2 linked regions of the Homo sapiens genome follow. The protein of the gene in region 2 interacts with the protein of the main gene of each other region in a pairwise test. Each region holds a gene or a part of one and is shown on either strand. Other genes may lie near its edges. The genes, in order: ANGPT1 and MAPK8IP2.

Region 1 (16,246 bases), on a different chromosome or scaffold from region 2:
TGCTGGTTTTAAAGAATGTGATCTATGCTCCCTCAGTTGTTTAACCTAGAAATGTGCAATTGGTATTAGATTAGACTTCTAGGAAGTCATTATTTCTTGCTGATTCTAATTTTTCTATTTTTACAAATTTCTTCCACTTACTTTTCCATTTACCCCTGTTTAATATGGACCTTACTATTTCTTTCCTAGAGATCACTTTGAAATTCTGACAAAAATCATCAACTCTACCTTCCCTGTCCAATATGGTGCAGCGTGTAATGTACAGTATTCAGAACAAGACTCTGGGTTCAAATCTCAGCTTGCTCACTTGCTAGTAGTGTGATATTTAAGCATTATTCACCTCTCTGTGCTTAGCTTACCTTTCATATAGAGTTGGTAATAGAACCTATCATACAGTGTTGTTACCAGAATTAAATAAACTAATATATGCAAAGGTCTCAGAAGACTGGCTTGTGTCAAGTATTTGCTGATATTATAATAACGGTAAAAGCACCCATCTGGTCCCCTACTCCAGGCTTCTCAGCTTTACAGTATATTTTTCCTACATTGTCACTGGGGAGATTTTTGTAAAACACAAATATCACCATTATCATCATATATTGACAATGACTGCTCATTGATTTTATAGAAAAAATGTGGCCTTTTTGGTCTCCCTCAGAGATCCTCTCTCTAAATTCATTTTAAGACTTAGGCTACAGCCCGCTCCCATGACTTCTGGAAAATAAACATGCCGTTTGTACTCTCTGGTGTGTCCTTCACTTTCTTCATTTTTTAGACTTAACTATCATCTTCCCACTAGAACAAGCTTGCTTATATTTTAATCCTAGATCAATGATTTCCAGCTTTGTAACTTTGGGCAAATTCTCAAATTCTCTGTAGAGGTTATAAAATTATGCTAGACATGGTAACTCCCTCATGTTGCTGTTGTAAGGGCTAACACGTGGAAAGCCTAAGCAAACTAGAATCATAATAAGGATTCAGTAAAATCCCCAAGAAAACTCTAGAGATGCTGGATTCTGCCCTTATCCTTCTGTTCCTGCCATGATTTTAATATTTCTCTGTGAGCTTTGCTCGGGTCCAGGCACCCTAGGCTCACTTCTAGCAAATAATTCTGAAAAATAATTGTTTACTTTTTTCTCTCCTATCAAACCCTAGGTTCCTTAAAGCCACAGAATGAAATACATCTTTTCTTCTTCCCAGTAGTCTGAGCAATATTTGGCACATTATAGAAACTTACCAAATATTTGTTAAATAAAAATGAATAAATATCATTTCCCCAGAACAGAACAGTTGCTGCAGAACTGTTTTGAATGAATGGATAAATTTATGAACCACATCCTGCTACAGCAGAAATGAGCTTCGAGCTGATTTGAGCAGTGTGAGACAATCAGACTATGTAAGTTTATAATACAGTCTAAATACTTTTTTTAAAAACTTTTTCTTTTCTTTTTTCCTTCCTTCCTTTTTTTACATGCTGTTAGTAATTAAATTCCCAATTATATATTTGCCACGTGTATGCTCAACATGAGATGACATTTTAATCACCAGTGTACATAGATAACCAGTGAATTTATTTTTATTTTTATTTTTTTTTTTTTTGAGACAGAGTCTTACTCTGTTGCCCAGGCTGGAGTGCAGTGGCGTGATCTCAGCTCACTGCAACCTTCGCCTCCTGGGTTCAAGCAATTCTCCTGCCTCAGCCTCCTGAGTAGCTGGGATTACAGGCATGTGCCACCATGCCCAGCTAATTTCTGTATTTTTAGTAGAGATGGGGTTTCACCATATTGGCCAAGCTGGTCTTGAACTTCTGACCTCAAGTGATCCACCCACTTTGGCCTCCCAAAGTTCTGGGATTACAGGCATGAGCCACCGCGCCTGGCCAACTAGTGGTTTTTTAATAGTCACAGTAACTGATTACTCTCCCCTGAAAGATTCCAAACCTTGTTTGTATGCCTTATTAATGTAAATTACTTAATTCCAGCAAATATTTAATTTTGGTAATTTTGAATTGCCAAAAACATGAAGCAATAGGCTGAGCTTTGACATTGTGATAACACTGAGGGCAATATTTCTTTAGTGGATAATGTTTCTAAGAATAAATGTGGCCCAATGTTTGCAGATGAAGGTTAGGCAAAAATAAATGTGTTACTCAGAAGCCTTACAAAGTGGATGCAATTCAGTTTGAATTGACTATTTGCCTAAGACACCATTATTGTCTATTAGGAATAAGAAGAGGAAAGTTTGGTGAATTATTTCAGATAATGTGTTTATTAGTTGTCCTTCTTAAAAGTATCTCACAACATCAGATGTGTTAGTAGAAAAAGTGCTGTGAAACTAAACAAAAGCACTCTCTGAATGCAAAGATAGATTTACAGTTTCTGGATCAAACAAATGTTTGGGAAAAAAAGTACATGTCTAGCCAACACTTCCTAGGAATTCTTTATCATATAACTTTAATGCATTATAGGCATTTTAGAAGGCACTAAAATAAAGATAATTACGATTATTTTAATGTTGACTATGACTTAACACAGAAGCTATGCGTTTTATACTAACCTCTTTTAATATTTCAACATTTAAGAAATTAATTCATTTACTTGTTTATGTATGTATTTATTCTAGGCCCTCTATTTCTTTTTTAAATTTGAATTTTTTAATGACAAATAATAACTGTATATATTTTTGGAGTAAAACGTGATGTTTTGGTACATGTATACACTGCAGAATGATCAAGCTAATTAACATATCCATTACCTCACATACTCGTCATTTCTTTGTGGTCAGAACATTTACAATCCACTTTTTTGGCAATTTTGAACTACATAATTGACAAAAGTTGTATATATTTATGGTGTACTACATACCTACCGGGTAGATATTATGATCCCATTTTAGAGATCAGAAAATGGAGGCCAAAAAAGCTGCCTGGATGACTGTCAACACTCAAACACTCCGGGGCATTGTATTTAAACATTTTCTGCAGAGGAAGTTTTGCTTATAAAGCACATAATGAATGTACTTAACTGAATCTTGTCCATCGAAGGAGAAAGAAGAAACTAAAGTTTAATGAATCAACTGTGTCTTCAGCAATGGGATCTTCGCTTGTATATTGAGCATCTAATGTAATTCTTTCCCTATTGTGGTGAAATAGACAGAATTCTCCTGACTTTATACATGATGAGACAGCTTCCTTAAGGTTAAACTGGTTGCCAATGACAGGGGAAGCTCATTAACATTTTTTTAGTCTGGCCTTGCAGTATTATATTCAGGCTGTCTCCACAGATTAGTGGGTCAGATTGAAACCAGAAGACCTTTTAGGGTCAATTAAAATGTTTGGCTTTTTGGATGACGACACAGCTCGTGTTTTTTAAGATCTTGTAGAATACCTATATTTGAGCTTTAAAATGTACATTTTAGAATATTTGATGCGTTTATTCTGGTATGCTTATTTTGAAATATTTGCATATATATAAATTTATAAGTAAAATATTTACATATAATCCTTCAATAAATAATAAATTTATATGATATATAAATTTTGGTCATAAAACAAAGAAAGGCTTTACCCATGTGTTTTAGAATTTGAATAAAAGTTCATTTTAATAACTGATATTCAATCTAGTATTATGCTATTAGCCATTTAAAATTTTAAATTCACCATAGCCAACGACTAAGGCTCCAGTGAAAATAAAGATATGCAGACAATGAAAATCTTCATAAAAACCTTATGAGAGCCACTTTCCACTTTTGTGTCTCTTATGAGTTCTAAAAGTAACTAAATATTTAGTTAGAACGCTTAACAGTAAGATTAAAGAAAAAAGAGATTAACAAGAAGCAAATAAAATCTATGGTCATGACAGCAGAGAACCTATTGGAAAATTAGGCAATCACCTTAAATTAAGATGGCAAATCCTGTAGTTAAATCAAGATTCATTTCAGAGTTTTGTCATTAAAAAGAAAAGATATCTAGAGGCCTGGAATATTTAGACAAATTCAGTTTCTATGATTATTATTACTATTTTTGGATATACTACATCATAGAACAGACACAGTTACTTTTTTCACTTCCTGAATGGCTATGAAGGGTACCATCTATCATGGCTATCCTCATTTTTCAAAAATGTTTCTTAAATTGAACAGATGTTTGCTTCCCTGATATTGCGCCCAAAGTTGAAACCTAGCCAGAATGTTTACTTCTAAAGTCACATCCTCTTCCTCTAAAAGCTTAAAGACACATTTATTAGGCAAATACTCAGAAAAGAAGTTAAATTATGATAAGTACGCAGACATATGAGCTCTGTGAGAATCACTAGGGCTTGACATCCCTAAAATCATGAAATAAAAACCACTATTCCACTCCATGTGCTTTAAGTCTTAGGATGATAAGAAAAATGTGTTTTCAATCTTTCCCAAAATGTATTCAGCTCAATATGAGAATAGATATAACTTGTATTAATACTTAATCGTTAAATACTCATGAGTTCTATTAAAATTCTCTGGCAAAATACTACCATGCTTTCCTTCCAGTGGACTCTAACTCAAGATTTTGGCAGAGTCTGACTGATTAGCAGGCTTTTCCCTTCCCAACCACATTACTGAGCACACCCAAATGGAGCTCTGGGAACTCACTGTTTAAAAAATATTACTTTACAAAGCATATTAAAGGCTTGTTTAGACTATCTAAAGGAGATATAACTCGAGGTAATGGAGTGTAATAGAGAAATATGAAATGTCTTTAAAACAAAATCACTTAATATGGAGTTATCTTCCCTATTCATAACTATAGATGAAAGCATGAAATTGAACAAATTTGTCACATAGCTCAAATCCACTTTTAAATTAAAGGAGCCTCCCCATGTGTACATTGCATATGCTCACTGAACCACTTCATGAATGGTCACATAAGCCACAGCTTAATAACAACAACTTGCAGATGTAAGTGGTATTCTCTTTCACTCATCACCATTTACAATTCCATCTTCATTCAGAGAAAGGCTGATTAGAGAAATACAGAAGATGACTTCAAGTTCCAAACTTTGAAGAGCTCTACTGAGGCTCACTAGAGGTTCTGCTTGAAGGAAACAGGTGCAAGCAGAGGCATTCATTCAATAATTGTTAGGTGGATGGATGGATAGACAGATGTATGCCTTCTAAAGAAATACAGGGTTGTAGATATTCCCAAAGGTTCAATGACTCCAGACATTCTAGTGATATCAAAAATTTGTATCTCCACTGTCACAAAGATACCCCAGAATTAATGAACTTAAATACCCTGATTAAATCTATCCTGCACAGGACTAAGCACAAGTGATCTTAATAAACATTTTTAATAACAATAATCCTGCCTCACTCATAATACTTGTTTCAAATAGTCTGTCTCCGTTTCTCTGCAACCCACAATTTCCTACCCCATTCCCTTTAAAAGGAAATAATAAATATTCATTTAAAAATGGAAATCCTCCTGAAACTCTCCCAGCACTATGAACTAATTTTTAACATTGGCTCATCTCTGTCCTATATATAGTTAAGTGTCTAACACCATAATACCAATTATTTATTCACGACAGTATCACAGATTTTATCTAAGGTTAAAAGACAAAGAAAGAAGAAATTAGAAAGCTCTTTCAGAAAGACATTGTGGATTCACAAATTTAGGCTTATGAATACATTCTCCAGGTAGAAACATGAGAAAATTATCAACATAACTTCATAAATGATTCTAACCATAAAGTTCTTCTGCTATTTTTTACACAGCAATCAATGCACTGTAGAAAGCTATATTGAGTATTTACTTGATCAAAGGAAATAAAATATTAACAATACCAAAGTGAGGAAGACATTCTTACCACCTTCTTTAGTGCAAAGATTGACAAGGTTGTGGACTGTGTCCATCAGCTCCAGTTGCTGCTTCTGAAGGACACTGTTGTTGGTGGTAGCTCTGTTTAATTGCTTTTCCAGCTCCTGGATTATATATGTTTGACGAGTAACCAAGCCTTGAAGGTTCTCTTTCTCTTCCTTTAAGGTGTCCAACTCTTCCTTGTGTTTTCCTTCCATTTCTAAGATTTTATGTTCTAATAAACTACAAGGAAGTGAAAATAAAACTTAGATTTGAAAAAATGTTATACAAAAAAACCCTTATAATTCAATTGGTTCCTGAATTTATTTAAGATGAGAAATTTTACATTTCACTGTAAAAATATTTTTAAGTGAGAGACTTAAGAATATGTATTCTTCAGAATAGGAGTTACACATATAACATGTCAAATAAAAAATAAGTAAACCAGATATTGTCAGAGTAATGTTTGCTTTTAACTATGATTTAGTTTCTTGGTTTCCTTGGGTGTATCTTATATCCAAGGTAGCTAACTTACACCCAAATAGCTACACTCTAAAGAAGTTATAGTATAACTTTCACTAAAGAAATGGGCCTAAGAGGAAACAGAATAGTTCAGGAAAAAAACAAACAACACGTAGAAACTACTTTTTATTCACTTTGCTTCATTTATTTGGGGTTTTCAAAACGTTAACATTGACTAAATTTCACGATAGTTCTGTGGGATCAAGAATAGTATATTGACCATCTGCAAAATCAGAAATAAAGAGAAAAATATGAAATAATCAGAAACACAAAGGTTTATGTACAATGACATTAAGAAAGAAAAAAATCTCTTATTTTGAAACTGTTGAAAATATTTTTAATCATTTTAAGGATATTAGAAAATGCTCAAAATATGTTAGGTGAAAAAAGAAAAAACAGCAATATACATTCTCAATCACACACACATACAAAAAGAAAACTATATTGACACAGAAACCACAGGAGCCAAAAGTGATCTATCTAAAGTCACAATGAATTCTTGTGATTTTTGATAACTGGTCCTGTATCATAACCACTAGCTTCCTTTATTTCTCAACTCAAGCTTCAGGATGAGGCTTAATGACACTACAAGTTCCCAAGTCACTGTATAAATGGTAACAAAAGGAAGACTCCCTTTGGCTGATGGTATGGTCTTCTGAAAGGAGTTGGGATGCTTTGCTCAGAGTGTTGAAATCTTTAACTGAGGCCCTTCCTTCTCCCTGAGCTCTTTATAGGATATTCCCCTTGTATATTGCACATTAAAAATGATAGAGAAAGCAGAAGCATTTTTGGAGCCTACCAACTGACTGGAAATAAAAAGCATTAACATTTTATGGAGTGTCTAATATACTAGTTTTCCTCCGGGGAAAGGCTTACTCGGTTTTCTCAGTTCTGTTTTCAGAAGGTTCAACCCGTCCTTAGTTTACAAGGTGTTATTAAAATGCCACATACCAGAATGGGCACTTAATTTACCTTGGAGAAATACAGCACTGAATCATTCCTTTCAAAAAGGGGACACTAGGGAGTGTTTTAGATTCAATACTTAAATTATAAAATAGAGCATGTTTGAAGAGCCAAATCTTCCAACACCAGGTACTGGGGGACAAAGTGTAACATCTGATTGTCTTTTACACAGATTAAGAAGTGTGGGTCCAAGGCTTAAATGGCATAAAAGACTGTGAGGGAATCGAGAGAAGTCCATGTGGCAGAAGCTGTGCCATCCTGGTAGATGCCAGAAACCTTGTGGATGGATCAGCATGGTAGATGGTGATGATGATGTCAATCATACTAGTCATGATACCTCTCATTTATGACATGGTTGCTATGTGTCAGGTACTGTTTTTTTGTTTTGCTTTTTGTTGTTGTTGTTTGTTTGTTTTAAGACAGAGTCTTGCTCTGTCGCCCAGGCTGGAGCACAGTGGCGTGATCTTGGCTCAATCTCTACTCACTGCAAGTTCCGCCTCCTGGGTTCACGCCATTCTCCTGCCTCAGCCTCCCGAGTAGTTGGGACTACAGGCGCCTGCCACCATGCCCAGCTAATTTTTTGTATTTTTAGTAGAGATGGGGTTTTGCCGTGTTGGCCAGGATGGTCTCGATCTCCTGACCTTGTGATCTGCCCGCCTCGGCCTCCCAAAGTGCTGGGATTACAGGCATGAGCCACTGTGCCCGGCCAGTGTCAGGTACTGTTTTAAGTGGTTGTTACGAGTTCAATTATGGCCTGCCCATGCTTGCCCCCCAGCCAAAAAAAAAAAATATGTATATATATATATGTGTGTGTGTGTATATATGTATATATATGTATATATATATGTGTGTGTGTGTGTGTGTGTGAAGTCCCAACCTCCAGGAAGTCAAGAATGTGGCCTTATTTAGAAACAGATTCGTTGCAGATGTAATTAGTTAAGATGAGGTCATCCTGGAGGAGGATGAGCTTCTAATCCACTATGATTGGTGTCCTTATAAAAAGGGAAAATGTTGAGAGACAGATCAGATGTGCACACAGGGAAAAGGTTGTGTAAAGATTGGAGCACTGCTGCCTCAAGCCAAGGAACTACTGGCAGGTAGGAGAGAGGCCTGGAACCGAGTCTTCCCTAGGGCCTTCGGAGAGAGCCTAGCCCTGCAGGCACCTTGATCCTTGATCTGGGACTTTCAGCCTCCAGAATATTCAGAGAATACATTTCCATTGTTTAGAAGAAGAGGAAGAGGAAAAAGAAGTGTGGCCAGAACTACTCCTGGGCATTCCAAATCTTTGCCAACAAACTTGTACTCGAAGAATATGGCAGGAAAGCTGCCTGTGAAGTCAAGCCTGAAAAATACCTGAGGCTGCTAAGACTCTACTAATTTATAATACCTTTAGTAGTGTGCACACATTCACATAAGAAAGTTTCTCATTGAGACCCATTAGCAGAAACTGTGTGACTTCTGCAGTAGAAGTCCCATTTCTGTTTTGAATTGCTTTCATTCTACCAATACCAAGAGAGAAAGGAGCCCTGCCCTGCACCGATCATAAAGTAAACCCAATTTAGATAGAGCTTGGGTACAGTAATATAGGGAAACTGTGATGATCACTTATTTTTTAAAAATTCTTTTGGAAATGAAAAACTTAGGCAAGGTAAGCAGTGTAAGATGAAAAACAACATCTGTAAGGGGTAGGTATGATTCATCTTCTTTTACCATGTTATTTTTCTTTGCCAGTAACTTTTTGTTGGAGAAGTTCGTGGTAAAACACAAACAAAAACAAAAAACTTCTTCACTATCTTTATTGGTTAAAAGTTTCATCCCACCTACTGGGGTAGGCGTCAAAGGAGATCTTCTCTGTGCCCATTAATTTTTGGCCTTTAGATCTGAGAATTAACCACGACCAGTGTCTTAGCTTATTCTCTGTTTACTTTTTATTTACTTTTCTTGCTAGTCCTGGGGTAATGATCAGAGGCAAGATGCCCATAATTTAGAGTTGTTAACTTATAAGAAAATTGCCTTTTAAATTCATAGGCGTTATAGTCTACTAGTGAGAAAACTTAGCATTACCTATTAAACTGGCAAGCATGTAGATATCAAAATTTGAACGTTATAGTCATATAATACTGGATAAAAATTCTGAATTACCATTTTGTACTTGAAATAAGATGGGCACTGGCCTTTCAGTTTTCCTAATCAGTAGGTAACATTCTGGTTTGGAAAATATCATGCTATAGTTATAATTTGTATTTATTAGTTGCTAAGTGCCAATAATTCTGTAAAATATAAAATGACACTATTCTTACTCTAGGGTTTATTTTTAGAGAATAAAAACCTCAAATGAAAATGCAGAAGCTAAAAGAAACTTCTGTTTCAGACATAATACTTTTTTTTTAAATTTTTGCATCAGTGTTTTTCTGTTTATTTTTGATGTATTCCTTGTTCAAGCGGACATATGCGCAGAGATAGCTGCTATCTGAGATGTCAGTAAAGAAGGTGGGCTTGTTTGATTTGTTTTGTTTTTCAGGATAACTTGGAAAGAGCTGAGAATGGAAAGTAGATCAAAGAAGTCCTGGTACTAAAGGAAACAATTCTGGACACTGGCTTGTGGAAAAGATCTGCTTTTCTGAGTAAAAGGAATACATAATATGTATAATATATAATATAACGCACATTAGCACGTTAGACAGAACATTAATTTTCATAATTCATCAGACAACCTTTAATGCTCCCTTACTAGCAGGTATCAAAAGATACCCATATAGTTTGTCATCTTAGAATAGACAGTGCATGTAATGTGAAAAAGAGACTGTCCATGGAACTAAGAAGGCTACTCTACAGCACAGACATTCCACAGGATTTGGAAACCCAAGTAATATGCATAACAACTACAAGCAAATTGGAAACATGTTACATTGTTTCTCTAATGGCAAGTCTTACCAGTTAATTATCTCTTCTCATCATTTTCTCATCACATTTCTTCACTTGGAGCGCCCTTAATAACATTTGTACTTCAGTAATTATCTACCAACTTTATTTATTAGGGACATTTTTCATATTAATGACAACTTTTTAGACTTCTTCAGGCAAGACTGATCTCTTCTTGACCCTTCCATTTCTTTTGACTACACTCATCCCCTTTTTTCATCTTCTCTTCATATTTGGCTTCCAAAAGACTGCTCTCTTCTCTTTGATTCCTCCCATTTATTGGCTAGTATCTACTTTGGAAGTCAGCCCTTCCTTGTCATTACTTCCAAAATGGTTTCAATGCAAACCTCACTTGCCAGAAAACTCCATATACCATCTCTACTTATTATCTTATTCTTGTAACACACCATTATAGTTATATAGCAATTTGAAACCTTTATCTCCTTTGATTCTTAAAGCAATATAGTAACATAGAATGAGCAGATGTTACAGACCCTCATGGATAGGTAAGAATCAAATGTTTTCTTCAAAATCATGCAGATATTAAGTGTCAGAACCAGGAATAAAAAGCCATGTCTTCTAAGTTGTTAGACTGGAAATCTACTCAAGACATCCCACTGCTGTGTCAATGAACATCCTATAGTCTCATCTCTTTGACTTAACACACTATAATCTCTTCCTATTCCTTTTATTCATCATGTTATACCAGGAACCAAGGCACTGCCTTCACATATCCTTAATATTTGCTGCTCTCCATTTAGTTGTTCTGGGAGCTTATCCTTCACAATATTTGAACCTGTTTATCTTTCCCACGTATAAAAACAGAATTACTTTGTCAAGTCGATTTTTAACATCTGGACTAGAATTTTCTTAAATACTACCCTGTCTTAATACCTCTTCCATTAAATTTATGTGTTAATTTTAATTATATTGTTAATATACTGCTCATATTTCATTTTGTCCCTGAAGCCTTTCATTGATTCTTTACTATTTTCGTTATCCAGGTCCGTTGGGAGTGGCCACCTCAGCTAGCATGGGGATCTTTATATAGAGAGGTTGATATGAAGGACAACACTGCAGCCCCAGTGTCCTAAAGTTAGATAGTCAAAGTAGTCAGATTTTCCCTGATGACAGTCTCAGCTACATGTTTAGCTTAGGTTTGCATTTTAAACACAAAACCTGGATGGTTACTGAACACCAGTGCACTGTTTCCTAGAGCATATTCAGTATGTTCTTTGAAGCAAAATAAGAGTTTCATTGTTAAGATTTAGGGAGGCCTATATTAAACAAACAGTTTTTATTAAGATGCTTCTTTTAGGATTAGGGTTCCATGGAACAACACTTTATGAAACCATGCACCTAAATCTATACAAATTGAGCTAGAAATCCAAGGAGAGAGTTTCTCACAGGAGTCTTAGGACTTCCTGTTTCCCGTCTTTCTGGAAACACTTTGAGAAGAGACATGCATAGAATTCTGGCACTTAGCTTCTATTTGAGGCAGAGGTGCACTTTAATGAATAAAATAAACAAAATAATCTGTGCCTCGAACTTTAGTAAAAGGTTCTAAATGAGTGTACAGCAAGTCCTATTTGAAGTTTCTGGTAGACTTCTCCATACCCCTGTTTTACACTGCCTTCTCCAACATCTTATTGGAAATATTTCAAATCATTGAACATATCTTGAAGCTTTCACAGAAAAGGATATCCCTTTCAAATTGTTTCCCACAATAGAGTTCTTAACATAGCAGCCAATGAATTCACAGTGGTGACAGTTGCCTAAGCTCTATGAGTATAAATATAGCCCTTCAAACAAGGAGGAAGATGTTGAAAATATAGAAACCTCATTTTTATCTGTCTGAATCTATTTACAGATGTTCCAATATTTTCCACTATTTTCAACATGTATGGTGTCAACATGTGTTGCAAATATGGGTTTGTAAAGAGTAATTTTTCTCCCCATTTAAATACACACAGATTTAGTTCAGGTTAAATTTATACTTTACGTGTCTAATTGGAATGCAATAAATTTCCTCTCAAAGTCTGAAATCATATTTGTTTGGAAATTCAAATTTGGAGTAGAAGCATAGATACTATAAGTAAATATTGGCAAATAAATGTAAAGTTTGGGGTAAAGAAGAATAAGCTAAATGTATTATAAAAACCAGCAACTAAGAAAAAAAAAGATTGATACATTTCATAACACAGAGATGTAATGTTTCTATTAAAAAATAAGTTGGACAATAAATAATAAACTAGAGAAAATTTTGTAACATATATTACAAAGTTTTAATATCCATTAAAGAGCTCATATGAGTTAATTTAAAAAAGGATAAACAATATAGTAGAAAAAATGTTAAACATACGTAAATAGGCTAGTATGTAGTCACAGAAAAAGAAATCTAGTCACAGAAGAAATGCAAATGGTTAATACACACAAAAACATGCACAACTTAACTTCTGAAGAAGCCGAGATTAATTAGATGGCTAGCAAAGTTTTGGGAAATTTGAAAGCCCAGGTACTCTTAGGGAGAAGGTAAAATGTGAAGATAACTTGTGAATATCTATAAAAAATTTAAATTATCACATCACTAATTATAGTTTTGATAAATTATATATCTATTAACATAAATAATACTTATAATAGGTTATAAATTATAGTGCATCTATAAAAATAGATTGCTACTCATTCTTGAAAATGAATGAGGTATATCTGTTTATGGTTATATGTGTAATATATGTATGACAAATTATTATGAAATAAATAGTAGAAAAAACCCCAATGATAAAATAATCTACACATATATGCACATATCATATAAACAAGTACTTGTGCATGTGTGCAATTATATATGAGTGTACATCTGTGTAAACACACACATAAATATGCACACTCTATATATACACATATGTTAGTATGTTTAGAGAAAACATCTGGAAGAGTAAGCACTGAATTTAATCTCTTAATGATGATTCTCTGCTAGCAGGTGGTATGGTGTAGGGGTGTGGAATTAGGGGAAATTTGACTTACAACTGTATATGCATGTATATAATTTAATATACATGTATATACAACAAGTTTGTCTTACTTGTTTTTATTTATCATAGAAATGGAGGAAACAGTCATAGGTCTAGAATGGCCTGTGCAAATGCTATCCAGAAATTTTAAAGGTGGGCTGAATTAGTGAACCTCAGAGTATACAATAGTAACATTGAGTGCCATGCAATGGGCTTTTGACAATGCAGAATAGTGGTGTAAACACGATCTCTATTTTATTCATGTTGAAAACGATAAATGGATTTACAGTATTTAATGTAAACAATATGATTTGTTTTTTCCACTATAAGTATTTTTATTAGTTGTGTGTGTGTGTGAGTCTTTGTGTGTGTGTGAGTCTCTGTGTGTCGTATGGATAAATGGCATTTGTTGGGTTAGAGCTATTGGGACATTTCCCAGTTCCTTATTCATTTAGCATTCAAAATGCATTTAATACTAAATATGCTTATGTGTAGAAAATTGTGCCCGGGAGCAGGAAGACAATGAAAATAAAACACATTCTCTGTGTCCTAGAAGGTCACAGCCTAATAGTATGGATATAGATAAATAAACATGCACACACAGAAACATACATATATTATAATGTGATCAGATAAGTGAAATTATGGGGAGGAAACAGGTACAGGGCTATCACATAGGTCATAATGAGCAAATCTATCTGGTAGAGCCAGAGACGGACTGTTAGAGAAGCTGACACATGCAATGAGTTTCCAAGGATGAACAGAAATTTGTGAGTTGAATAAGGAATGTCAGGCAAACATCAAATATGTCTGAAATAACATCATGTGTTCAGTGTCATACTAACAACTAACATGATTAAACACTGCTGCTCATGTCAGGCACTGTTCTCAGTGATTTACACACATTAACTCAATCTTCATCTTAACTTCATACAGTACAATTATTGTCATTGTTATGTTACAAATTAGGAAACCAAAACACATAGAGTCTATGTAAGTTGCACAAAGTCACACAAATAATATGTGACTTAGTCGATTATCCCAGGAATCAAGGAAAAGTGAAACCAGGCAGTCTGGCCTCAGAGCTCATGCTCTTAACTATTAGCGTGTATCCTCTAAAAAATAAGATTATTGGAAGTAAGTCTGCAAAAGTAAGATTATAGTGATCATGGACTGTATTGTGTGCTAAAGAACTTGAACTCTCTTCTATCAGTTATAGAGAATTGTCATTTGGTTGAGAGGGAATTAATAGAGGAAAATAGTCTGACTTGCATTTTAGAAAGAAGACTTTGGCACAGCTTCTGGATAAGGACTGGAGTGGCACATAGCTTAAACCCAGAGGTCACTGCAGTGGCCTAGACAAGAATTCATGGCAGCTTGACCTAAGACATAGTCAGTGGGAATGGAAAGGATGGGACGGATTAGAAAAATATTTAGAAGATGGAATTGATAGCATCAACAGTGACTGGTGAGTTGTGGGGGATTAGGGAAAGAGAAGAATTAAGATGAGCCTTAGATTTCCAATTTGATCAGAATTGTATTTCATGCCAAGATACTACGGTTATTATAATTTAAAAAAAGGAAAATGCTATATGCTATTAAATATTATTTTAAAAATTAACAGGGAAAAAAGGTAACATTCTAGTATGTAGGTGTTCTATTTACAAGAAAAAGACTAGAATAATATAAATTCAAAAAGTCACCTTTTTTATCCTTGTTATAAACAACTAATATAATTCAGCCTAGTTTAATGTTAGAAGTTAGCAAGTTACTTTAGCATTTTGTAAATAATTTATCAAATGAAAGATAGCTTTAATTTAAAAGACTATGATTTCATTTTTCATTTCTTTAGGCATATTAAGCATTAAATATCAATACTGTATTTTATTGCAATAATTAGTAAGGCATAATTTGGTATCTTGAAGTTGCACATGTTTCAATCACTTAAAATTAATTAACTTAATAACTTCCCATAACTCCAGCTAGAAGATAGATGAGCATGTCAAATAAGTTCAGTGAATTCCCAAGGTAAAATAAATAGTTTATATCTTCTGCTCTAATATTAGAAGGACTAAATAATGACCTATATAGTGACAGGCCAAAAACAACTGGTCTACCCCTTTCTTCAAATGAATATTTGTTTGTTTTAAGAGAATAACTTGACAACTACATCAATTATACTTGAGGCCTCATCACATTGCAAAAATATTTTTATAATAATTAAGGCAGAGAATCACCATGAACTTGAACTCTAATTTTGCCATATCCTTAGCTGTTTGGTCATAAGCAACTTACTTGATTTCTGTGAGCCTCAGGGCTTTTTTTAAGTGTAAAATAGAAATAATAATACATACTTTGCAGGATTGGTTGGAGGATTGGAAATAGTAAGTTAAAGCACCTGGCACAGATGTTTACCTTGTACTAGTAGCTATGCGGCAGCTAGTATTGCTCAAACTATGTAGGAATGGCCATCACATGTCTCGTTTCAGTTCACTCTGAACGGTCTTACTGAAGACTTCCTTAATCTTCACTCTGCATACTCAGCACAATCAAGAAAGCCCGTGTGCTCCGTCTTTGTATACATGGGGTTTTGATTTCCCTTCCTGTATACCCTGGTGAGACAGAAGGGCTCCTTCTGGAATATTCTTTAGCCTGGCTTTGCTTCCGCCTTGCAAAAAGTTGGGGTTAAGTCAGAGATGGGCGGGTGCTGGGAAAACTGGCCAGTTGACCAAACCTTTCGACTAACAGACCCAGTCACATATTTGGTTCAACTGAAGGAAACTGCATTAGGACATCATTTCCTGTACACCTCTATTCCATTGTTTTAGAAAGCAGTAGGAAACATACTGGAGGAAACTAGTGAAAGTTTACATTTTGTGTCCTACTTTGTGTTCATCTCACTCCCTTTGTGGGCAAGGTAAAATATTAATGTTTCCCATTTACTTAGGTTCTTGGTTGTGTAATTCCAATTATATGGTTGAGTTACAGA
Region 2 (16,246 bases):
CCGCCGTCATGTATCTCCACCCCAGGACTCCCTAAACAACAACGGAGGCTTTGACCTGGTGCGTCCGGCCTCCTGGCAGGAGACAGCGCTATGCTCACCCGCCCCGGAGGCCCTCAGAGGTGAGGGGTGGTGGGCCCGCGGGGCGCGGGGAAGCGGGGGAGGAGGGCAGGGAGGATGGACTGGCTGCTGGAAGAGGCCTGGGTGGTGCAGAGAGGGTGACCCCACCTCCCTGCCCAGCAGAGCTCCCGGGCCCCCTCCCTGCCACGGACACCGGGCCCGGCGGGGCGCAGTCGCCAGTGCGCCCGGGTTGCGACTGCGAAGGGAACCGGCCTGCGGAACCCCCTGCGCCAGGGGGGACTTCGCCCTCCTCAGATCCCGGCATCGAGGCTGACCTGAGAAGCCGCTCGAGCGGCGGCCGCGGGGGACGTCGCAGCAGCCAGGAGCTGTCCTCGCCCGGCTCCGACTCGGAGGACGCGGGCGGCGCGCGCCTGGGGCGCATGATCTCGTCCATCTCGGAGACGGAGCTGGAGCTGAGCAGCGATGGCGGAAGCAGCAGCAGCGGCCGCTCCTCGCACCTCACCAACTCCATCGAGGAGGCCTCGTCGCCCGCCTCGGAGCCGGAGCCCCCGCGCGAACCCCCGCGCCGCCCCGCCTTCCTGCCCGTGGGCCCCGACGACACCAACAGCGAGTACGAGTCGGGGTCGGAGTCGGAGCCGGACCTCAGCGAGGACGCGGACTCGCCCTGGCTGCTCAGCAACCTGGTGAGCCGCATGATCTCCGAGGGCTCCTCGCCCATCCGCTGCCCCGGCCAGTGCCTGTCTCCTGCGCCGCGCCCGCCCGGGGAGCCCGTGTCGCCGGCCGGCGGGGCCGCCCAGGACTCCCAGGACCCCGAGGCGGCCGCGGGGCCCGGCGGCGTGGAGCTGGTGGACATGGAGACGCTGTGCGCGCCGCCGCCGCCCGCGCCCGCCGCGCCTCGACCCGGCCCCGCGCAGCCCGGGCCCTGCCTATTCCTCAGCAACCCCACGCGTGACACCATCACGCCGCTGTGGGCCGCGCCCGGCCGCGCCGCCCGCCCGGGACGAGCCTGCTCCGCCGCCTGCTCCGAGGAGGAGGACGAAGAGGACGACGAGGAAGAGGAGGATGCCGAGGACAGTGCGGGGTCCCCCGGGGGCAGGGGCACGGGCCCCTCGGCGCCGCGGGACGCGTCGCTGGTGTACGACGCGGTCAAGTACACGCTGGTGGTGGATGAGCACACGCAGCTGGAGCTGGTGAGCCTGCGGCGCTGTGCTGGGCTGGGCCACGACAGCGAAGAGGACAGCGGCGGGGAGGCCAGCGAGGAGGAGGCGGGCGCGGCGCTGCTAGGCGGCGGTCAGGTCTCGGGGGACACCTCGCCGGACAGCCCTGACCTCACTTTCTCCAAGAAGTTCCTCAATGTCTTCGTCAACAGCACATCTCGGTCCTCCAGTGAGTGAGAGGTGGGGAAAAGGGGGGTGGCCCAGAGGAAGGTGCAGACTCCCTGGCCCCAGTCCCAGGGTCCCCCACAGTGCCCAGGGCCACCTGAGGGTCTGGCTGTGGTCAGGGCTGGGTGCCCTCTCCCACCCAGGACATGGCATGAGGTGGCCTGCTCTGCCTCAGCTCCTTCCCGCTCGTAGGACACCTACACCGGACTGTGGAGGGGACTTGGCCTCTGCCCAAGGCCAGGCCTCTAAGCACTACTCTGACTCTGTCTCCCTGTCTCCCCCGCCTCTGTCCTGCCGGGTCTCCCAGGCACCGAGTCCTTTGGCCTTTTCTCCTGTCTGGTCAACGGCGAGGAGCGAGAGCAGACTCACCGGGCTGTGTTCAGGTACGGCCTCCCTCCTTGCTGGCGGTGGCCCCAGCCTCAGTCCCTGCCATCACGGAACGCCAGTGGACACGACCGTCAATCCCGCCCCCCTCCCCAGTGACCTCTCCCCCAACGGCAGGTTCATCCCGCGGCATCCAGACGAGCTGGAGCTGGATGTGGATGACCCTGTGTTGGTGGAGGCCGAGGAGGACGACTTCTGGTTCCGTGGCTTCAACATGCGCACGGGGGAGCGCGGTGTGTTTCCTGCCTTCTACGCCCATGCGGTGCCCGGCCCTGCCAAGGACCTGCTGGGTGAGGTCCCAACCCCGAGGGGAGGCTTTTCACCCCAGATCCTCCCCTGTGCCCCTGCCTGACCTGGGCCCTCTGTGCCCCGCTCCCCAGGGAGTAAGCGGAGCCCCTGCTGGGTGGAGCGCTTTGACGTGCAGTTCCTGGGCTCCGTGGAGGTGCCCTGCCACCAGGGCAACGGCATCCTGTGTGCAGCCATGCAGAAGGTCAGTGTGGAGGCCGGGCAAGTGCAGGCTGAGGGTCCGCTTGGCGGCCACACCAGCACTGCAGGCTGGCACAGGGCTTGAGGCTCCAAGGTCTGAGGTCTGATTTCCTCCAGGGAGGGTCTGGGGGATGCTGCAGGGGGAGCTCGGGGTGGGTACCCCAGGCCCTGGTTCAGAGGCCTGAGCAGGTGAGTCTAGGGCAGAGCACAGCAGCTGTCCCTCATCACCTCTGGGTCTCTGGGCCACAGATCTTCCAGGTGGCCCCGACTGCCATCAGCCCTTCCTCTTCCCATCTGGAATCAAGACCAGCCCTCACAGCCCCTTCCCTGGGAGCCCTCTACTCATCCACTCACTCAGTGGACGTTTAGTGAGCACCTGCCCAGGCACCAGTACTGAGGCTGAGGCTGGGGGGCAGTAGGGAGCAGGGCAGAGCAGCCCAGGGCGGGTGAGGTCTCTGTTCCTGGCTCCTGAGCCAAGCGCAGCAGCCTGCCTGGAGGAGCAGAAGGAAGATGAAGCAAGCTGACTGCAGAGAGGCGATTGCTCCTCCTGAGCCTGAGGAGTGGCCAAGGCCACACCCCTTATGTCTTCCAGAATTGCATCTCAGGGTCCTCAGCATGTGTGTCCTCAAACATAAGCTAAAAGGAGCAGAGGCGTAGTCCCACCAAGGGGAAAGAAAGGCCCTTGTGGGCTCCTCAAGACCCTCTTCTCCCCCAACTTCTTCTGTAGATTGCCACTGCCCGGAAACTGACCGTCCACCTGCGCCCTCCTGCCTCCTGTGACCTCGAGATCTCTCTTCGGGGGGTCAAGCTGAGTCTGAGCGGAGGAGGGCCCGAGGTGGGAGTGTGGGGGACTGGGGACCGGGGACTGGGGGATAGGGTTAGGCCACGGAGTCCGACGGGGCCAGGCTGGCAGGGGTGTCCAGTAGGTGGGAGGCAGGGGTGGCGCCAGGCCTCCTTTGACACAGGGACTTCTGCCCACCTCTGCTCTAGTTCCAGCGCTGCAGCCATTTCTTCCAGATGAAGAACATCTCCTTCTGCGGCTGCCATCCCCGCAACAGCTGGTGAGAGTCTGACCGTCCCCGAGTCCCCCAACCGCCCCCACAAACCCTGAGAGTCCAACCGCCCCCTGAGTCCCCACAGACCCTGAGGGCTGCCCGTGCCCAGCCCTGAGAGCTCCACCTGCACCCACTTAGCTCTGTGAGCTGAGCCTGCAGTGGCGCCTGCTCTGAGCTGGACTCAGGAGGCGTGGGTCAGACAGGCTTGCATCCAGTCTGGGTGGAGAGAGGCACACGGGCGAAGGATGTGAGAAGCCTGTGTGGGTGCAGAGGACGCCTGAGTGGGCCTGGGGCTCAGGATGGCCAGCCTGGAAACACAGCAGGTGACAGCGGTGGGGAAGTGGATCTTCCTGGTGGGGTCTAGCTGAGCCAAGGGTGTGGGATGCACTGGTCGGGGGCTATATAGGCTCTGGGGCCCGCGTGTAAGGGGAGCAGCTAGAAATGCCGGGGAAGACCTGGACCCTTTTGATTATGCCAAGGAGCTGTACTTAATCTTGCTGGTAATGAGGCCATAGAAGGCTCCTAATGGAAGGAGGTGACACAGGGGACCTGGGGGCTGCTGAGGTTATACAGGTGCTATGTCCTGAGACCAAGTGTGCAGATGCAAGAGGCACTGAAGAGGCAGTACAGGCAGGACCTAGGTTGACCGGCTGTAGAGGGTGACCTGGAAGAGACCAGGGTGACGTCTCCCTGGGGGATGGTTGTACTGCAGCCCACACACCGAGAGGGGATGCGGGATCAATCACAAACGGTGAGACTGAAGTGGCCGTTGGTCCCATGGGTCTGGAGTTTAGGAGGGAGACCTGGAGGGAAGATACCAGGTCAGAGCAGGTAGATCACTGAGACGAGAGGGGAATGGCCAGGCAGGGTGAGGGGAGGAGGGGAGGAGGAGGTGCTGGCATAGGAGCAGCAGGCCAAGGGGGGCTGCCAGCTTCCCTCCAGGCACAGGCCCCTGCCCTCTGTGTCCCAGCACCCTAGAGGAAGGAGATCTGGGAGGAACCAGAGAGGCAGAGCCAGCCAGAGGCTGGAAAGGACTTGCGGGGAGTTGGAGGAAGCAGGCTCACAGACAGGCAAGACACAGCAGGGCACGGTGCTGCCAGGACTGAGGCGTGGGACAGACGTCAGTGCATCTTGGGGGCCTTGTGGACTCTCCCTGTGGTCGAGAGTGAGGGTGCTGCCTGCTGGAAGGTGCGGAGCCCTTTTGTGTTGTCCCCGCCGAGTGCAGAGATGGTCTGATGGGATCCATGCGGAAACGCTGCTCAGTGGGGTGGAGAGGTGGGACAGCGGGCAGCGATGCAGACCAGACTGCGGGGCCAGCTCTGGGGTGGAGAGGTGGGACAGCGGGCAGGGGCGCAGACCAGACAGCGGGGCCAGCTCTGGGGTGGAAAGGTGGGACAGTGGGCAGGGGCGCAGACCAGACAGTGGGGCCAGCTCTGGGGTCACCAGGACAGCGAACGGGGCGCAGACCAGACAGCAGGGACAGCTCTGGGGTGGAGAGGTGGGACAGCGGGCAGGGGCGCAGACCAGACAGCGGGGCCAGCTCTGGGGTGGAGAGGTGGGACAGTGGGCAGGGGCGCAGACCAGACAGTGGGGCCAGCTCTGGGGTCACCGGGACAGCGAACGGGGCGCAGACCAGACAGCAGGGACAGCTCTGGGGTGGAGAGGTGGGACAGCGGGCAGGGGCGCAGACCAGACAGCAGGGACAGCTCTGGGGTGGAGAGGTGGGACAGTGGGCACGGGCGCAGACCAGACAGTGGGGCCAGCTCTGGGGTCACCGGGACAGCGGACGGGGCGCAGACCAGACGGTGGGGCCAGCTCTGGGGTCACTGGGACAGCGGACGGGGCGCAGACCAGACAGTGGGGACAGCTCTGGGGTCACTGGGACAGCGGACGCTGCCAGGAGAGGAAGAATGACCCAAATTTCTCATCAGAAGGAAACTGGGTGAAGCTCAGGTCTCAGGCTGGACAGGGCCCCAGCTAGAATTTCGTGAGAGGAAGGTGGTCAGTCGAGTTTGGGGTTTGGAGTCAAGATGTGGCAGGGGTGTGGGAGGAGGTGGAGGAGCTGCTGCCCTGGCCCAGACCTTCCTAATATTTGTCACCCCAGACCCCCCGTCCCCGGTCCCTTGCCACGAGGAGGCACGGACGAAACCGTGTGAGGTGAACGATGAACTCGTTTCTTCATGGCGGTGGTGGTAGGTCAGGAGAGCGTGGGGTGTGCTGTGTTGGGATCTGGCATTAGGATGTCTGGTGTTGGGATCACAGACTGTAGCCTTTTCTCCCAGGGCTGCCCATCCTGCCTGTGTGTCCTGGGCAAGCTCCTGAACCTCTGTGCCTAGCTCTCCATCAGGGCCCTACCTCAGAGGGCTGTTGTGAGGCTTCTGTGAGTTAATGGAAAGGGCAGAGGATGGTGCCTGAGTAATGCAGGAAGCCAGATCTGTGGGTCGGCGCTTATTACCATCATGACTTGAACGCGGCATTTGAGGCGGGCCCTGTGCTCTGTCTGTGGACAGCGTGCACACACTGTCCTGGCAAGCAGACCATCATGTGGCTTCCCATTTGGTGGAATCGCAAAGCCCCGAAGCCATGGGGGAATGGACGGGTCGGCCAGTTTCAGGGGTGGGGGTGGGGCAGCGTCCTGCTGCAGAACTCTGCCTGCCTCTCCCTCTGGACGACGATTTTTGATTTTTGCTAATGTCTGGGTGGAGGAGCTGGGCAGTGACTCCATGAGCGAGGCCCCGCAAGGAGCTGCTTTCCAGTGGGAGCGAGGGGTAGACCGGAAGAGGGTTTTACAGACCAGGGGTAACGTCCAGCCCCACCTCGGAGCTGGGCAAGGGGCTGTCAGTCTGCTAGGCCCGCAGGAGGAGGCCTGAGTTGGCAGGAGATATGGTCTCCAGTAGCCAGGCAGAGGCCTTGCTCTGTGGTCCTGGGGCAGGCCCTGAATAGGGCCACAGAGGGTAGCAGCACCGGCTCAGAGAAGGGAGAGTGGACGCCCCTGGTCATCATGGAATTAACTCAGAGCGTGAACTCTTGGTAGGTGCCCAGCCCTGTGCTTGGGCTGAAACCAAAAAAAGACAACTTCAGATCTTGAAATTGTGCGACCCCCACACTCCTGTCCCTTACCCTCTCCCCAAGCCCTTTGTTCCTGCCTCTTCTCTCTACATCATTTGTGGGGTGGCCAAGGCTGGGCCAGGGCTCTGACGTGCCCTCCACACTGACTTGCCCGCAGCTATTTCGGCTTCATCACCAAACACCCCCTGCTGAGCCGCTTCGCCTGCCACGTCTTTGTCTCCCAGGAGTCCATGAGGCCGGTGGCGCAGAGTGTGGGGTGAGTGGGGCCCCAGGGTGTGGGTGCAGAATGGGTGCAGGGTTACGGAGGTGGGGAGCGGAGGTGAGCAGGTGGGGGCAGGAGCCTGGCAGGGGAGGTCTGGGGAAGGAGAACCAGATGTGCTGTGTAGAGAGGGCAGTGGTGGGTGACAGTTTGGGGTGCTGGGCATGGGGTGGGAACAGGCACAGACACATGGCCCAGGCACTCTGGCAGGGGTAGAATTGCTGGGCCAGGAGAGCTGAGGGTCACACTTGGGGGTGACATGGCCATGCCTGGGTGGGGGGTTATGGATGGCTGCAGAGGGAGGAAGGAGGGAGAGCTCAGAGGCTCTGTGGAAGGCAGTTTGGGGGTTGAGGACCGGCCCTGAGTGGCTGGTGGAGGACCGTCTTTCCCCAGCCGCGCCTTCCTGGAGTACTACCAAGAGCACCTGGCGTACGCCTGCCCCACGGAGGACATCTACCTGGAGTAGCCTGCCCACCGCTCTGTCTCCTGGCCGTCTGCTCCAGGCGCAGCTGGGGCTGAGGATGTCTCAAGAGGCCACCATGGCTTTGGCAAGGACTGGATTGGGGGGACATGGGACCTTACGCTTGTGGGGGTCTGCGGGCTGGGAACTCTCGTCCTCGGTCCCCAGGGCGCAGCTGTTGGGGCTGCGGGGGAGTGGAGCCCCCGTGCCCCTGCTTTTCCTCAGATCCGTTCTTTCTCTGTGTTGTCCTCCTCCTTCCCTTCCCAGTCTCCCTTTTCTCTCTCCTGGTGTCTCTGCCCCTCTCTGTGCCTGCAAACCTTATCCTCTATTCTTCACTTTGGGGTCAGAACTTCGGGGGTGTGGAGGAGGTGCGGCTCTAGGGACAGGTAATGTCGGCTTCCAAGTGATGCCCTCCTGCCACTCCCCTGCGATTTATAAGGGAATTTTAATTTTTATAGTGAATCTCAAGGGATCATCCCATCCTTGACCACAGGGACAAGAGGGGCCCCCTCGCCCCAGCCCCACCCCACATGGAGCTCAGGGGGAAGCAGGGAGGGGTTCCCAAAAGAGCCCTGCGGAGGCTAGGAGTGGTTCTTGATGCTCACCTGAAGCCCCTAGACGCTGCTAGGAGGGGGGGCCCTCCTGGGCCCCCAATACCCCTCCGCTTGCCGCTGCTAGCGCACCCCTGCAGTCCAGCGTGCATCCACCCCACGCACGCCCCGTGCTGTGTTCCTGGGCCCTGCCCATGGCCTCAATAAACTCTCTGCTTGGTGTGACATTGGCTGTTTCTAGAGGGTGCTAAGACATGGGGCCAGGTGCCCAGGGGCTGCCCATTGTGGTAGGGACAGAGTCCCCAGTGGCGGGAGTGTTGTGGCAATCTCACCCTTTTAGCTCTTTCCGAAATTGTGCCGGGGGTCCCTGCGGTGCTGCTCTGGGGCCTTATCTGAGGTGCCGTATCTAGAAGCACCCTTGGGAATTCTCCCTAGATACACTCGATTGGCCACAGAGGAATCCGAGGCTGTGCAATGGGGTGTCCTTTCCACGTGCACGGACTGGGGGCCAGCACGGCTCAGGTCAGTGTGTAGTGGGGGCATGAACTCCTTGAAGAACAATCTGGCCGGGCACGGTGGCTCACGCTTGTAATCCCAACACTTTGGGAGGCCGAGCCGGGGCGTATCACCTGAGGTCAGGAGTTTGAGACCAGCTTGGCCAACATGGTGAAACCCCATCTCCACAAAAAATACAAAAATTAGCTAGGTGTCCTGGCGCACACCTGTAATCCCAGCTACTCAGGAGGCTAAGGCATGAGAATCGCTTGAACCTGGGAGGCGGAGGTTGCAGTGAGCCAAGATTGCACCACTGCACTCCAGCCTGGGCGACAGAGGGAGACTCCGTCTCAGAAAAAGGAAAAGAAAAACAATCTACTTAGATCTTAAAATGGATATTTAAAAAATTCTCCAGAGAAAGCCAGAAGAAAATAGGTGACTTTTTCACTATGTGCTTAGGTGACTGCAGATGCCCGGCAATGTTCCCTCCCAGGCCCTCCTGGGTGAGCCCGCCTCCCAGGCAGGGGTCAGCATGGCCGGGGTCCCTCTGTCTGAGCCCAGGATTCGTGCAACACCAGGAAGACAACAGTTGAAGGTTCCTTAGTGAGCTAAGGGAAGTATACACAAACTTACTACATAAACATTAGAAAGTGCTGTCCGTAAAAAACACGTCTTCACAGAGCCAACAAGCAGAGAAATAGCTGCCCAGTGTTAGGAAGTGCATCATGATCCAGAGGTTCAGCCCGTGTGCAGCGCACAGACCTGAGGCCCCAGAGAGACCGAGGACGCAGACCAGTGGCACGACGGAAACGCAGAACGTTTATGAGAAAACTTTCCTACTAATTGAGATAAAGCTGTAAAGAGGCAGATAGCCCCACTGGGTGTGTACGTTTGAAACTTGTGCCCCCTGGGCTAGGGCATTCGGGGTGTGGCCCTCAGTCCCCTGTAGCTGCTGCCTGGAAACCGCTGCCACCCACCCACCTCCTCCCTCTGCTCTTCCACTCAGGTGAGAATTCTCCAAGCCCTGCCCTCCGGCGCCCCCGTCCCGCCCCTGCCCGGCCTGGCCCCGCCCCTGCCCGGCCCCGCCCCCCAACGTGTCTTCAGGTCTCTTTCCCTCCAGCCGGCCCTTAGGACGGCTGTTGGACGTGCTCGTGAGTCCTTCGCCTGTCTGCCTTCCACCTCTCTGCAGCTCCTTCTCCAATCTCATGGTCTTCTTGAGCTTGGCCGCCCTCCACGCCCCATGCTGGGCTTGGTCGGTTCTGGGGTCTACCTCTCTGGCTTCATCCCTCCCACAGTTTCGAGGGTTTCCCTGTGCTCAGGCCCCTGGCAGCCGCCCCCTGTGCAGACCACTGGGCAGATCCAGCTGACCTCCAGGGGCACTTCCTCGGCTCATCACTGGGCCGGTGCTCTGCAGAATGAGCTGTGAGAGCCACTGTGGCTGGCCAGAGGGTGCCACTCACAGTCACTTCAGACTCACAGGAGCCTTCGTCCCGACCCCTGCATTCATCTGTGTTCTGTTTTATGTTTTTTCCCAGTCACCTGAGCTGCAGGCCTTGGTCACCCCAGACTCCTCCCTCCTGTCACCCTTATCCTCACCCCAGCACCTTTACGTCTGCCCCAGGCTCCATTTCCCCCTCTTCTGCCTGGATCAAACCACCCTGACTTTCCTGGGTCTTCGTGCAACAGCCTGCTCCGGCCGCTGCCTCACTGCACCTGCAAATCCACTTGCACCCACACCCAGGCCAGGGTTTTTAAACAGAAGCCTCAGCAGATCCCTCTCTCTGGCCAGCTCCCTGTTGAACCAGGAAGCAGGTCCCTGTTGAACCTCAGCATGACCCGCCCCCACCCCTGCATCCCACTTCTGCTCTGGGAGCCTCTGGGTTCCTGGGCGCACCTGCTGCCCTTCCCTGTTTGTCACTGGGTGACCTCCCGTCCTTGTGGGCGCTCCCGGGCCCTGGTCTCGGGCCTTCTGAGGACTTGCTCTCCTGGTAGCGGCTGCTGACTGTGAGCCCAGAGAGCAGGCGTGGCTGTTGACCTTAGGTCCTCCCAGAACCTGGCGGATCGCCTGGCTCCCAGGCAGGAGGCGCTGCATGACGCCTCCAACTTCCGCCAATCTAGCCCAAGGATGGCGTTCTAAATAAAACGCGTTCTACAGAAAAGTGTTTATTGCATTCTTCTTTGAAATAATGTAAGCATAAAAGTAATCTGAATATTGACCAATAGGGTTAATTGATTAAGGTATATTTACCTAATTGAAATATTGGGTAGATGTGAAAAAAAGTTCCAATGTTTGTAATTACACAGAAAATTTCTGTTATGCTATTAAGTGGAAATAAATTTCTGGGCACAGCAGCTCATGCTACTGTGTAATCTTAGCAATTTGGGAGGCCAAGGTGGGCAGATCCCTTGAGTCTGGGAGTTCGAGACCAGCCTGAGCAACAAAGCGAAACCTCTATCTCTACAAAAAAAAAAAAAAAAAAATACAAAAATTATCTAGGTGTGGTGGCACACACCTGTAGTCCCAGTTACTTGGGTGGGTAAGGGAGGAGGATAGCTTGAGCCTAGGAGGTTGAGGCTGCAGTGAGCCATGATCATGCCACCACACTCTGGCTGGAAAGAGCAAGACCCTGTAACCACAATGAAAGAAAAGAAGAGAGAGAGAGAGAGAGAAAGAGAGAGAGAGAGAGAGAGAGAGATGAAAGAAAGAAAGAGAAAGAAAGAAAATAGGCAGGGTCATATGTAGCATTCTAGAAACTATATGTTGAAAAATGCTGAAACACAAAAAATGTTAAAAGTCATTTTTGGCCGGGCGCAGTGGCTCATGCCTGTAATCCCAACACTTTGGGAGGCTGAGGCAGGCGGATCATGAGGTCAGGAGATCGAGACCATCCTGGCTAACACGGTCAAACCCCATCTCTACTAAAAATACAAAAAATTAGCCGGGTGTGGTGGCAGGCGCTTGTAGTTCCAGCTACTCGGGAGGCTGAGGCAGGAGAATGGCATGAACCTGGGAGGCGGAGCTTGCAGTGAGCCAAGATCGCGCCACTGCACTCCAGCCTGGGAGACAGAGCAAGACTCCGTCTCAAAAAAAAAAAAAAAAAAAAAAAAAAAAAAAAAAAAAACCACCTCATTTTTGCTGAAGTTGAGCTGAGGGTGTTTCTCTTCCTTTTTTTCCTGCAGCAAATATGTCTTAATTTTTTGAAGTATTATTTGCTACTTATTAGAGACCTCCAAGTGCAAATGGAAATATCCACAGAAAAACTAAAGATAAAAAAGTTAAGATAAATTAATCAAACTCAAACAAAAAAGTTATTTTGGCTACAATAAAAATACCACCCCATAAGGTTATCATAAGGCTTAAATGAATCTGCCAGTCAGACAGGCCAAGGGTAGTGCTTGAGTAAGTTATTATTTTTATAAACACTATAAAAGTAGGATTTCCCTATTTTTAAAAATATTACTTTCCCTGGCTGGGCGTGATGGCTTGCACCTGTAATCCCAGCACTTTGGGAGGACGAGGCGGGTGGATCACCAGGTCAGGAGATCGAGACCATCCTGGCTAACACGGTGAAACCCCGTCTCTACTAAAAATACAAAAACAAAATTCGCTGGGCATAGTGGTGGGCACCTGTGGTCCCGGCTACTCGGGAAGCTGAGGCAGGAGAGTGGCGTGAACCCGGGAGGCGGAGCTTGCAGTGAGTGGAGACCGCACCACTGCACTCCAGCCTGGGAGACAGAGTGAGACTCTGTCTAAAAGAAAAAAAAAAAAATTACGTTCCCTATAAAGAGTAACACATATCATAGACATTTTGGAGACTGCAGATGATAGAAGAAAGGCTAAAATCAACTGTATTTTTATGGCCCAGAGATAACTGTTTCTAATATTTTGGTGTATTTTTTCCAGTCTCCCTTCTACTTGAGGGTTGAAGGCAGAGGGAGGTTAGGGGAATCAAGAAGAATTTAAGGCAAAAGATAAAAGCAAAATAGCAGAGGTCGCTGCAGGCATACCTTGGAGATTTTGCAGGTTTGGTTCTAGACCACCACACTAAGATTGCAACAACGTGAGCCACACAAATTTTCTGTTTTCCAGCGTATATAAAAGTTATGTTGGCCAGGAATGGTGGCTCATGCCTGTAATCTCAGCACTTTGGGAGGCCAACGCAAGCAGATCGCTTGAGCCCAGGAGTTTAAGACTAGCAGGGACAACATAAAAAAACCCGGTCTGTATATATATTGTATACCTGTATATTTTATAGATATACACGTATGTAGTATATAGATATACATGTATATAATATATATAAATACATGCATATTTTATATATATATATATATATTAGCTGGGTGTGGTGGCATGTGCCTGTAGCCCCAGCTATTCAGGAAGCTGAGGTGAGAGAATTGCTTGAGCTTGGGAGGTTGAGGCTGCAGTGAGCTGTAATTACACCACTGCACTCCAGTGTGGATGACAGAGTGAGAACTTGTCTCAAAAAAAAAAAAAAAGTTATGTTTCCACTATACTGTAGTCTATTGAATGTGCAATAGCTTTTAAAGTATATACCTTAATTTGAAAATACCTTATTGAGCCTGGGCACGATGACTCACAACTGTAATCCCAGCGCTTTGGGAGGCCGAGGTGGGTGGATCACCTGAAGTCAGGAGTTTGAGACCAGCCTGGCCAACATGGTGAAACCCCATCTCTACTAAAAATACAAAAAAAAAAAAAAATAGCCAGATGTGGTGGCAGGCGCCTGTAATCCCAGCTACTTGGGAGGCTGAGGCAGGAGAATTGCTTGAACCCGGGAGACAGAGGTTGCAGTGAGCCGAGATTGCGCCATTGCACCCCAGCCTGGGCAAAAAGAGCAAAACTCCATCTCAAAAGAAATAAAATAAAATAGGGCCGGGCTTGGTGGCTCATGCCTGTGATCCCAGCACTTTGGGAAGCCAAGGCGGGGGGATCACGAGGTCAGGAGATTGAGACCATCCTGGCCAACATGATGAAGCTCCATCTGTACTAAAAATATAAAAAATTAGCCAGGCGTGGCCAGGCTCAGTGGCTCACACCTGTAATCCCAGCACTTTGGGAGGCTGAGGCAGGCGGATCATGAGGTCAGGAGATTGAGACCATCCTGGCCAACATGATGAAGCTCCATCTGTACTAAAAATATAAAAAATTAGCCAGGCGTGGCCAGGCTCAGTGGCTCACACCTGTAATCCCAGCACTTTGGGAGGCTGAGGCAGGCGGATCATGAGGTCAGGAGATCGAGACCATCCTGGCTAACACGGTCAAACCCCGTCTCTACTAAAAATACAAAAAATGAGCCGGGCCTGGTGGCGGGCACCTGTAGTCCCAGCTACTTGGGGAGCCGAGATCACGCCACTGCACTCCAGTCTGGGTGACAGAGCAAGACTCCGTCTTAAAAAAAAAAAAATTAGCCAGGCGTGGTGGCACGCACCTGTAGTCCCACCTACTCTGGAGGCTAAGGCAGGAGAATCGCTTGAACCCGGGAGGCGGAGGCTGCAGTGAGCCAAGATCATGCCACTGCACTCCAGCCTGGGCATCAGAGCGAGACTCTGTTTTGAAAAAAAAAGAAAACACCTTATTGCTAAAAAAATGCCAGTGATCATCTCCACCTTCAGTGAGTCATAATCTTTCTGCCGGTAGAAGGTACTGCGTCAGTGTTGATGGCTGTTGACTGATCGGGGTGGTCGTTGCTGAAGGTTGGAGCAGCTGTGGCAATTTATTAAGACAATGAAGTTTGCCACACTGACTCTTTCATGAAATATTTCTCTATAGCATGTGACACTGTTTGATAGCATTTTATTCATAGTAGAACTTCTTTCAAAATTGAAGTCAACCCTCTCAAACACTGCTGCTGCTTTATCAACTAAGTTTATGTAATATTCTTTTTTTTTTTTTTTAAGAGACAGGGTCTTGTTCTGTCACTTAGGCTGGAGTGCAGTGGTACAATAATGGCTCACTGCAGCCTCGATATCCTGGGTTCAAGTGATCCTCCCACCTTAGCCTCCCGGGTAGCCAGGACCTAAAGCAAGTGCCACGGTGCCTAGCCAACGTTTTTTTGGAGAGATGAGGTCTCACTATGTTGTCCAGGCAGGTCTCAAATTCCTGGTCTCAAGCGATCCTCCCACTTCAGCCTCCCAAAGTGTTGGGATTACAGGCCTGAGCTACTACACTCGGTCCTGTGCAATATTCTAATCCCTTGTTGTCATTTCAACAATGTCCGTAGCATCTTCACCAAGAGTAGATTCTATCTCAAGAAACCACTTTCAGCCAGGCACGGTGGCTCATGCCTGTAATCCCAGCAATTTGGGAGGCCAAGGCAGGAGAATCACTTGAGCCCAGGAGTTCAAGACCAGCCTGTGCAACATGGTGAGACCCCCATCTCTACCTAAATAAATAAATAAATAAATAAACAAGAAAATTTAAAAAAAACTTTCTTTGTCCATAAGAATCAATTCTTCATCTGTTCAAGTTTTATCGTGAGATGGCAGCAATTCAGTCACATCTTCAGGCCCACGTTTAACTCTAATTCTCTTGCTATTATGATACTTTCAACACATTTGCAGTTACTTCCTCCACTGGACTTGTCACCTCAAAGTCATCCATGAGAGTTGGAATCAACTTCTTTCAAGCCCTGTTAATGATGATGATATTTTGACCTCTTCCTGTGAATCATGAGTATTCTTTTTTTTTTTTTTTTTGAGACAGAGTCTCACTCGGTTGCCCAGACTGGGGTGCAGTGGCGCGATCTCGGCTCACTGCAAGCTCCGCCTCCCAGGTTCACGCCATTCTCCTGCCTCAGCCTCCCGAGTAGCTGGGACTACAGGTGCCCGCCACCGCGCCCAGCTGATTTTTTGTAATTTTAGTAGAGATGGGGTTTCACCGTGTTAGCCAGGATGGTCTCCATCTCCTGCCCTCGTGATCCACCCGCCTCGGCCTCCCCAAGTGCTGGGATTATAGGCGTGAGCCACCATGCCCAGCCTAGCATCTTTCTTAAGGGCCCTGGGATTTTCAGAATGGTAAATGAGCATTCAACTTAAAGCCACCAGCTGCATTAGCCCCTAACAAGAGAGTCAGACTGTCCTTTGAAGCTTTAAAACCAGGCATTGACTTCTCTCTAGCTATGAAAGTCACAGATGGTGCCGAGTGCGGTGGCTCACACCTGTAATCCCAGCACTTTGAGAGGCCGAGGCAGGCAGATCACCTGAGGTCAGGAGTTCAAGTCCTGCCTGGCCAACATGGTGAAACCCCATCTCTACAAAAAATACAAAATTAGCCAGGCCTGGTGGCGCATGCCTGTAATCCTAGCTACTCAGGAGGCTGAGACAGGAGAATCACTTGAACCCGGGAGGCGGAGGTTGCAGTGAGCCGAGATTGCGCCACTGCACTCCAGCCTGGGCAACAAGAGCAAAACTCCGTCTCCAAAAAAAAAAAAAAAATTGCGTACACTGAAGATCTATTGTTTACTGTAGCCACCCTCATCACTTACCTTAGCTGGATCTTCTGGAGAGCTTGCTGCAGCTTCTCCATCAGCACTTGCTGCCCCACCTTGCACTTTTACATCATGGAGACAGCTTCTTTCCTTAAACCATATGAACCAACCTCTGCTACCTTCCAGCTTTTCTCCTGCAGCTTTCTCATCTCTCCCAGCTTTCACAGAATCAGAGGGAATTAGGGCCTTGCTCTGGATTAGACTTTGGGTTAAGGAAATGTTTTGGCTTGTTTGATCTTCTATGCAGACCACTTAAACTTTCTCCTTAAACAGCAATAAGGCTGCCACAGTTTCTTTCTTTGTTTTTCTTTTTTTCTTTTCTTTCTTTTTTTTTGAGACAGAGTCTTGCTCTGTCGCCCAGGCTGGAGTGCAGTGGCACAATCGTGGCTCACTGCAACCTCCGCCTCCAGGGTTCAAGTGACTCTCCTGTCTTAGCCTCCTGAGTACCTGGCATTACAGGCGCACACCACCACACTTGGCCAATTTTTTGTATTCCAGTAGAGACTGGGTTTCACC

Evidence for each region.
Region 1: the proteins of MAPK8IP2 (region 2) and ANGPT1 interact in binary tests that used the Homo sapiens proteins (3 or more experiments, as listed by UniProt).

Annotation. Positions count from the first base shown.
Region 1 is NC_000008.11:107,316,050-107,332,295, forward strand, and holds part of ANGPT1 (angiopoietin-1 isoform 1 precursor), read right to left. Parts: intron 6,080-16,246; coding exon 5,847-6,079; intron 1-5,846. UniProt on the Homo sapiens protein: Binds and activates TEK/TIE2 receptor by inducing its dimerization and tyrosine phosphorylation.
Region 2 is NC_000022.11:50,603,601-50,619,846, forward strand, and holds the end of MAPK8IP2 (C-Jun-amino-terminal kinase-interacting protein 2), read left to right. Parts: intron 1-25; coding exon 26-119; intron 120-237; coding exon of another isoform or gene 238-240; coding exon 241-1,464; intron 1,465-1,767; coding exon 1,768-1,843; intron 1,844-1,961; coding exon 1,962-2,134; intron 2,135-2,224; coding exon 2,225-2,334; intron 2,335-3,057; coding exon 3,058-3,165; intron 3,166-3,320; coding exon 3,321-3,391; intron 3,392-6,611; coding exon 6,612-6,710; intron 6,711-7,106; coding exon 7,107-7,179; 3' UTR 7,180-10,378; downstream 10,379-16,246. UniProt on the Homo sapiens protein: The JNK-interacting protein (JIP) group of scaffold proteins selectively mediates JNK signaling by aggregating specific components of the MAPK cascade to form a functional JNK signaling module.